2 separate regions of the Homo sapiens genome follow, and region 1 is linked to region 2. The links come from fine-mapping of genetic effects on gene expression. A gene starts in region 2. The other region holds a variant in brackets. All regions are shown on one strand. Distances are between the middles of the regions.

Region 1 (4,263 bases), 58 kb after region 2:
AAGTAACTTGTCCATAAGTCACACAGCAGTAAACACTGGAGTCAGGCTTCAATCCCAGAGCACTCTGGAGCCTGAGTTTTCTTACGTACTCTGCTTACTGCACTGACAATACTGATATAAGAAACAATGTTCAATCAATAACATACAGTTTCAGCTATGGAAAATGAATAAGTTCCAGAGATTTGCTGTACAACATTGTGCCTATAGTTGAGAGTACTGTATTAAACACTTAATTTGTTAAGATGGTAGACAGCATATTAAATGTTCTTACTATAATAAAATGAACACTTAAAAAAAGAATACTTACAATTGATGCTTTATAATCGTGATAAAACTCACTCATATTTATGTGCCAATTCTTACACAGTTTAGGAATTGAAAATACGGTATTTTGATATATATAGGTAAATATATGAAGTAAATATATATGTACACACACACACACACACACATATCTCAAAGTAAAAAGGAAAAAATAAAAAAGGTCTTTGTTTAGGTTTCTGTTTTAGCAACTGAAATTTTAACGCCATTCAGGCAAATTCTCATGGGCATGGTAGATATAGAATCAGTTTAGTCGTGATCCTGTCATTTGTACAGTGGGGTCATGCTATTTCTCAAAGTCAGAAGAAAGAAGTTCACATACAAAAGGTTGACGTGGAAAGATAAGCTGGTTTTCATTGAGCTTAGGTGGAGCTGGTTTTCCTTTATAGACCAGTATATATTCTCCTGCTTGGCCATAGGGAAATTACATGCTATTTTATACACAATTATATATTACTTTCTACAACCAGTATCTAACTTGATATTTAGCCCTTGGCTCTATCTAAGACAAAGGTATTGCAATTGCCCATTTTACCATCAAACGAGGAAGCTTTGTTGTACTTCGCTTTCAAAATGATCCTTGAAAACCTACACACATACACACACCAGCACTTACATTCTTTTAGTATTTCAGGAAGTGGGCATGAGTAGGTTTGAGCCTTGAAACTGCTTTGTCATCCAGTTTGTAGCTGGCTAAGGAATGGAAAAAAAAAAAAAAAAAAGAAGAAAGCAGAGCTCATCTTGATCATTGTAATTGGCACTGACAGCAAACACCAGTGTGCCAATAGCGCCAAAGAATTCCTACGCAAAAGCTACTTCAGCTGTCCGAGATTTTCCTGATTTGTTTTGTTTGTGCATTTGATGTATAATCTTGTGGTTTGGCCCTCCTCACCACCTAAAACAGAAAAAGCATATTCAGTTCCTAGGTCATTTTAACTGGAACTTGATCTTCAAGTTCCAACTATGTCAACAAATTAAAGGACTTGACCATGAATTTTTTTTTTTTCTAAGTGAACACTTTGCCATTCCTCAAACCCTACCGCAGGTTCAGCAGACACATGTAAGCGGCCTCTTTAGATGTGGTCACCGTTGACAGCTCAAAAGAACAAAATCAAAACCCTGAAGACTTTACATAAAAACTCATCGTTGGAAGAAGAGCTCGTATTTCAAAGATGATATTAATATGAGAATATTTTTTAACATCCTCTTTTAGCATAAATTTCTCATGATTAAAATATTACCCACAATGCTGTATTGTCTAATCACCTGGTTAGTAAGATGTCTGGAACTGTGGCATGGTGAATGATGAGGAAATGTTCTGGGGGACTGCTTTTATTTCAGCTTCTTTTTTGTTTGTTTTTTTTTTGAGATGGAGTCTTGCTCTGTCTCCCAGGCTGGAGTGCAGTGGCGCAATCTCAGCTCACCGCAATCTCGGCCTCCCGGGTTCATGCCATTCTCCTGCCTCAGCCTCCCGAGTGATATTTCAGCTTCTTTCTTATTGATGATGATGATGGGATTAGACAAAAATATTGCAGAACGAAACAAGTGTCACTATTTGAGTCCCGAATCTTATTTTCTTCATACTATTATACACTTAAAATTAGTGCCTATTTTTGTCTCCTCTTATAGCTTCTTCTCCTCACATCTTGTTAAGTGAAAGACAGACGGGCCTTAATATTACTAAGAATAATAAAAATACTTCCAATTCAATAAACA[T/C]TTCAGTAACTGGATGAAGGTCTTTGCTTGAATTGTCTCTCGTGGTACCCTCATCTACCCTTCAAGGCAGGTATGCTGTGTTAATGATAGTATTACTCAAATAAGACTTGGCCTTCTAGAAATTAAATGACTTGATCCAGTTCCTATCACTAGCTCAGTTTTTTTTTTTTTTTAATTTTTACTTTTTTTGGGTACATAGTAGGTGTATATATTTATGAGGTACATAAGATGTTTTGATACAGGCATGCAATGTGAAATAACCACATCATGAGAATGGGGTATCCATCCTCTTAAGGATTTATCTTTTGTGTTACAAACAACCCAGTTATACTCTTTGAGTTACTTTAAAATGTACGGTTAAGTTATTATTCATCATAGTCACCCCGTTGTGCTGTCAAATAGGTCTTATTTGTTCCTTTTATTTTTTTTCTACCCATTAACGATACTTACTTTTCCCCCACCCCAGCCCCTCAGTACCCTTCCAGCCTCTGGTAACCATCTTTCTATTCTATATGTCTATGAATTCAATTGTTTTGATTTTTAGATTTCACAAACAAATGAGAACATGTGATGTTTGTCTTTCTGTGCCTGCTTTATTTCACTTAACATAGTGATCTCCAGTTCCATTCATGTTGGATGGGTGATAGGATCTCATTCTTTTTTGTGGCTGAATAGTGCTCCATTTTCTTTATTCATTCATCTGTTGATGGACACTTAGGTTCTTTCCAAATCTTGGCTATTGTGAACAGTGCTGCAACAAACATGGGGATGCAGATATCTCTTTGATATACAGATGGCCAACATTTTCTTTCTTTGGGGTATATATCCAGTAATGCAATTGCTGGATTATATGGTAGCTTAATTTTTAGTATTTTGAGGAGCCTCCAAACTGTTCTCCACAGTGGTTATGCTAACCTGCATTCCCACCAGCAGGGTACAAAAGTTCCCTTTTCTCTGCATACTTGCCAGCATTTTTTATTGCCTCTCTTCTGCATATAAGGTATTTTTACTGGGGTGTGATGATATCTCAATGTAGTTTTAATTTGCATTTCTCTATTGGTCAGTGGTGTTGAGCACCTTTTCATATGCCTGATTGCCATTTGTGTTTCTTCTTTTGAGAAATGTCTGTCCAAATCTTTTGCCCGTGTTTTGATTGGATTATTAGCTTTTTTCCTATAGTCGTTTGATCTCTTTATATCTTCTTGTTATTAAGCCCTGGTCAAATAGATAGTTTGTAAATATTTTCTCCCATTCTGTGGGTATGTCTCTTCACCTTGTGGATTGTTTCCTTTGCTGTGCAGAAGCTTTTTAACTTGTGATCCCATTTGTCCATTTTTGCTTTGGCTGCCTGTGCTTGTGGGGTATTGATCAAGAAATTTTTGCCCATACCAATGTCCTGGAGATTTTCCCCTAGGTTTTCTTATGGTAGTTTAATTCTTTGAGGTCTTAGATTTAAGTCTTTGATAGATTTTGATTTGATTTTTGTATATGGCAAGGGATACAGGTCTATTTTCACTCTTCTGCCTATGGATATCAAGTTTTCCTGGTACCATTTATTGAAGAGACTGTCTTTTCCCCAGCATATGTTCTTGGCACTTTTGTCAAAAGTGGATGCGCTGTAGGTGAGTGGATTCTCTATTCTGTTCCATTGGTCTCTGTGTCAGTTTTTATGCCAGTACCACGCTGTTTTGGTTACTATAGCTCTGTAGTATAATTTGAGGGTAATGTGATTCCTCCAGTTTTGTTGTTTTTGCTCAGATTTTTTTTTTTTTTTAAACATAACATTATAGACCTTTTGAGCTCTTTGTTGTAGGATGCTGAGCTGTGCATCATATGGGATTTTGCAGCATTCATGGTCTCTCCCCACCAAATGTCAGTAGCATCCCCAGTCAAGACTATCAAAAATGTCTCCAACGTTGCCAAATTTCCTTGGGGTGGGGGCAGTGAGGCAAAACTGCCCCCTTTAGAATGACTTTGCTAGCCGTGTGACAGAGCCTGGGAATGCCCTAGACGAATTTCCTTCCTCTTAACCCATGTGCTGTACAATACCTGTCTTCTTGTCCCTTCTGTTTTTTCATCTGAGCATAAGAGTTTAGAACTTGAAAAGCAAATCACTAATGTCTGCTTTTTCATCTCAATGATAGGTGAAGTGCATTGATGAATACTTCCTTTTCTCTTTGTGGGTATAGTAAATTAAATCTTGTATAGAGATCCATGTATTGTGAA
Region 2 (4,263 bases):
AAGATCAAAACTGAGCTCAAATCATGATCTTATTATACTGTGTTATTTTTACTTTCACAAAGTATTAGAAAAGAAAGGCCAAGGTACCTATGTGTGTATAGATGGGGAATGATGTAAGAAACACGCGGGTGGGGGATTAAAGTGTTTGAGATGACAATCAATTTCAATTGAAAGGAAAACTATTGAGGACTGAAGTCTTAAGAATAGTGGGCTGACCCTCTGTTTTTTGAAGCTTGCAGATTTGCTTTTTGTTTTTCTTTCACCCACTTCTCTTATGGATCAGTGAGTTTCCTAATAAAAATAAAGTAACCTAATTGTTATAGTTTTCTAAGTCTGCAAAATTATTGCTCTTTGGAGTCCCTGAGCCACATTTCCTATTCGTTTGCTTCCTCTGGCCCCATCATCACACATTTCTAAAGCTGACTCATAGGTCATGTGCATAAGAAATTTGTTACAACGATTCTGCTTGTACTTTGGCGTGATATTTTTTCTTACTTAATTTTCCTTGTCGTGATTACAATAGATGCAACCAATAGCTTTTAATAGGTGGCACATACTCATAACATGGTTTGCTCATGGTTTAGAAACACCAATAATTTAAAGTATGAATTCTGTAAATCTGCAACCACCCCCTCCCCCATTTTCAATCTCATTCATTTTCTAGCAGCATAAATCAGAAAGCAAAACCTTTGTTGCTTTAAAGATCCTGCTTTGCCTTTTTAAAATGTGTTCTTAAAGATGAAATAATTATGCTGCTTTCCTGGATCAAGATTTCAAAGGAAGAACCTCCTGCGGATACTTATGTACACTTACATACGAAAATGGATGTTTAAATGCAGGTAGATGAGTATTTGTCCTAAAATGTGATCTTCCTTGTTGATGCTGGAGCTTGAGGAGCTATCCCTATGCTCTGCTGCCACCTTGGAAACTCAGAAGGATTTACAACGGAGTTCTGCACAGGGGAAGCTGGAAGCAGCATTCCCACAGCCTCTTCTGGGGCTGGCAAGGCTCAGAGAGGCATTTGAAATGGCTATTATTGACACCCATAGACTTGGGTATGTTTCAGAGAGAAACTATAACATCTATCTCATGGGAAAACACACTTTCTCTGTTTTTAAATAACTCCGTTTCAGCAAGATCCATGTGTGTAGCCTCTGAATACTCTATAAAGGCTCCGTATTTCTTTCTTTCTTTCCTTAGTCCGGAATGGAGACAGAAGAAAGATTCGGTTGAAGATGTCCCTGTGTGGATCTCAGTTTGCGCTCTGAGCGACGTCCTGGCTCATTTGGGTGTGACGGTGAGAGCAGAGGCGCTCTGCTGACAGTTTTTTCTTGTCTAAGCTTCCATTCCGCATCCACAATATGACTCGCCTTCCACTCCAGTTAACTTCTTGGAAGTCCAGAGCACTTAGTCAAAGCTGTTTACAAAATGCAAAGCATCTGGGCGGCCAAGGCAGAGGCTCCTGTGTTCTCTATGTAACCGCCTCCAAAAAAGCTGGGAAATTTCGCGGATCAAAATGTAGGCGCTTAAAGCTGACCCTCTGCTGTCAATGTTGGGACTTAGATACATTTTTTGCATCGTCATTCTTGTGTGTGTTTCCCGTTTATTCCATTCTAAGGCTCAGGCTCGCGCTGTTTCTCTCGCGCGCGCTGTCCCCTCTCTCCATTTCCCATTCACACATCAAACTCCGTCCTCCGCACCCCTATCTTCCCGTGTCTTCTTAGTTATGTGAATGTGTGTCATTAGGCTTACTCGGACACTGGATGGGTGAGTGGGAGGCAGCTTTTCTTGCGGTTTCATTTACACTTGGCATGGGTGGGTGGGTGCCCTCCACAATTCGTCTCGCACACGGAACACAGTTAAAATCTGTAGCTAGAACGAGTGAAAAGTTCCGAATCTTTAAAGCGCAGCTAGGACAGGAAATAATACAGGGTTGGGGGATGTGGACGGGGGCGGAGAGCAGAGAAGTAAAGGAATAAAACCAACTTCGCTGGCAACTTCAATAAATCCGGTAACTGGAGGCAAAAAATAGACTCCGAGGGCTGGGTCTGGTCCGGATGAAACGCTAGGGCTCCTTCCCTTCCTTGAATCTTGGGCGCTGGAAGCCAGCCACGGGCGTCTTGCCACGCGAGTGCCCCTAGACAGCAACACACCCACTGGAAACGCACGTGAACAAAGCTCTCGCCCCCGGGAGCCGCTGCCTGCGGTTTCCTAGTCGATCCCAGCTTCTCTAGGGAGTGTCAGGCGCACACAGGGTTAAGTTAGTTCCCTCCCTGGTAGGAGGGAGAGGAGGAGGAGGGGAAAAGCAGCATACTGTCTCAGGCTGGGTACCTTGTAGTTAGTTGTACGTTCGAAACCTGTCGCCGTCACTTGCGCGTTTGGCATTATCCATTGTCACCGCGGAGGAACGAGCGCTCGAGATATCATCAGTGCCCGCAAATCTCCGCGCCAAGGCGCTGAGCTACTCCTTTCCGAGGTGCGCCTCTGGTCCTCCGTCCCTGGTGCCCAGCAGCGGCGAGGCGGCATCTCCGCTCCCGCCGCCGTGTCCACCGAGCCCTGGGATCAGGGTGGCAGTTCTCAACGATGGGCAGGAGGGACCTCGGCGGCGACCCCTAAAACAATACCATGCCCCGGGATCCCCGCTGCTGCCGCGCCAGCGTCTTCCCTTTCCACCTCCCTGACCCTGTCGGATTCGGATGAGCCCATTGCAAGGAGAAGACGCAGCCGTCAGGTAAAAGGGGCTGCGTTGCCAGGTGAAGTTTCCAGTAACCGGCCGAGCTGCTGCTACGCTGGCACCACGCTGTCTCTTCGGGGGATTTTTTTTTTTTGAAAGAGCTGGGGGTGGTCATCTTAAGTGGGGTGCTCTAGGCTTTGTCTTTCACCTGGAGAGAAAATAGGCAGCTTAGCTCTCTCTCGACTTTGGGGACATCTGTCTGCTGGTCGAATCCACCTCCTCTACGGAGCATCATGACTGAGTTCTGGGTCAAAACGCAAATTTTCTTGCCTGGTAGATGCATCGATGCTAAATTGGGGTTCTCAGTGCCCCTAACCTTGTCAGAGTTCAGTCTCCTACTTCCCTAGATTGAATCTCTTAACTTTCACCAGTAACAACCCTCTCCCCTCCACAAGCTGTTGTTAATGTCACCAGCGTTATTATCAGGCTGTTGTATCTAAAGACACCAACCTACTACCTGCCCGTAATCTGGGATCTATTAGCAGTTAAACAGATGCGGTGGATACTAATTCCTTTTCCTTCCAGTTGGTGGGGGCGGGTGGGGCTTTTTCCAAAACCAAGTCCCTTCCAGCCCTGCTTGTCCTCTTCGGGCTGGCGGGCACTGAGCTGGGGCCATCACGCCTTTCTAGAGCGCCTGCGGAGGTGGCGAAGGCTTGGAGAGCATACGAGGCGGAATCCGGATCGAGTGAGTTCCTTGAGCCGCTTGCGTGGGACGCAGGGAGAGGGCGAATAACGCCCTCAGGCGCTGAATGCAGGGGCAAGGAGCCAGCGAGGGTGGCTGGAGCAGGCCTTGCCAGCTGTTACCAAGTCTCTCCACAGGCTTGGGGGCTTGGGGCCTCCTGGAAAGATCCCTCCGCCGCGCTGACCAGTACGGGGCTCGCTCCCGCACTTTGAAGGCTGCCGCGGTCTTTCGTCATTTATAATCAAGCCCAAGATCAAGGTTGCAAGCTGAGGTCGGGGTACTGACAACGGGAATGAAGCCATAGGGGAAGAGGATAACTGGGACGGGCTGGACCCATACTTGATACCCGGGAAACTCCTAGAGCGTGTGGTGCTCCTGCCAGCGGCAGTTACTGGTGGAGCTGAGGCCACCGCTACTGTCGTCGTTGGCGCTTTGCTTCTGGAACCTCCCAGCAAGATGGCACTCACTGTCTGTTCCCTTCCGATTAGCACCCCCAGCCGCGCTCCCTCCTCCCCGGGATACGTATTAGTCACATACTGTGGGGAGAAGATGGGCTATGTAAATGTAAGTCAACGCGCTTTCCCAGCCACCTTTGCATAATGCAACAGGAACAGCGACCCGCGCGCACGAACCGGGTAGTGTGCGCGTGTGTGTGCTCGCGTGTGTGAGCGCGTGTGCCAGCGTGCGTCTCCGCGCGGGCGTGCGTCTGGGTGGATCCTTGCGTGGCTTGGGAGGCAAATCGGGCGTTTCTCCAAGTCGTCTTAACATGATTTAGGCTCTCAAATACGTGAAAGCGGTAGACACAACAGGGATGCGAAGGAAATAAAAAACAATTGGGGAAGTGGTG

Direction of the effects. Positions count from the first base shown, and alleles are read on the strand shown. Sizes are in standard deviations (SD) of each study's normalised expression.
In carriers of allele C in region 1, the expression in spinal cord of the gene that starts at base 2,341 in region 2 tends to be lower than with T alone (moderate effect, 0.71 SD a copy in GTEx).

What was found. PIP is the estimated chance that this variant, and not a neighbour inherited with it, causes the effect.
Region 1: its variant is the best candidate, but not a certain one, in a credible set for the expression of FLRT2 in spinal cord (GTEx, PIP 0.79).

What each region holds. Positions count from the first base shown.
Region 1 is chr14:85,586,263-85,590,525 of GRCh38, forward strand. All of the region lies in intron 1 of FLRT2 (fibronectin leucine rich transmembrane protein 2), which reads left to right. Among named protein-coding and RNA genes, the nearest start is that of FLRT2-AS1, 57 kb to the left of the region's middle. The variant T/C (reference allele first, on the strand shown) is at 2,038.
Region 2 is chr14:85,527,804-85,532,066 of GRCh38, forward strand. FLRT2 (fibronectin leucine rich transmembrane protein 2) reads left to right here and starts at 2,341. Exons shown (of 2, transcript NM_013231.6): 1 at 2,341-2,731. It overlaps FLRT2-AS1 (FLRT2 antisense RNA 1), which reads right to left and starts at 3,856. Exons shown (of 2, transcript NR_184170.1): 1 at 814-3,856.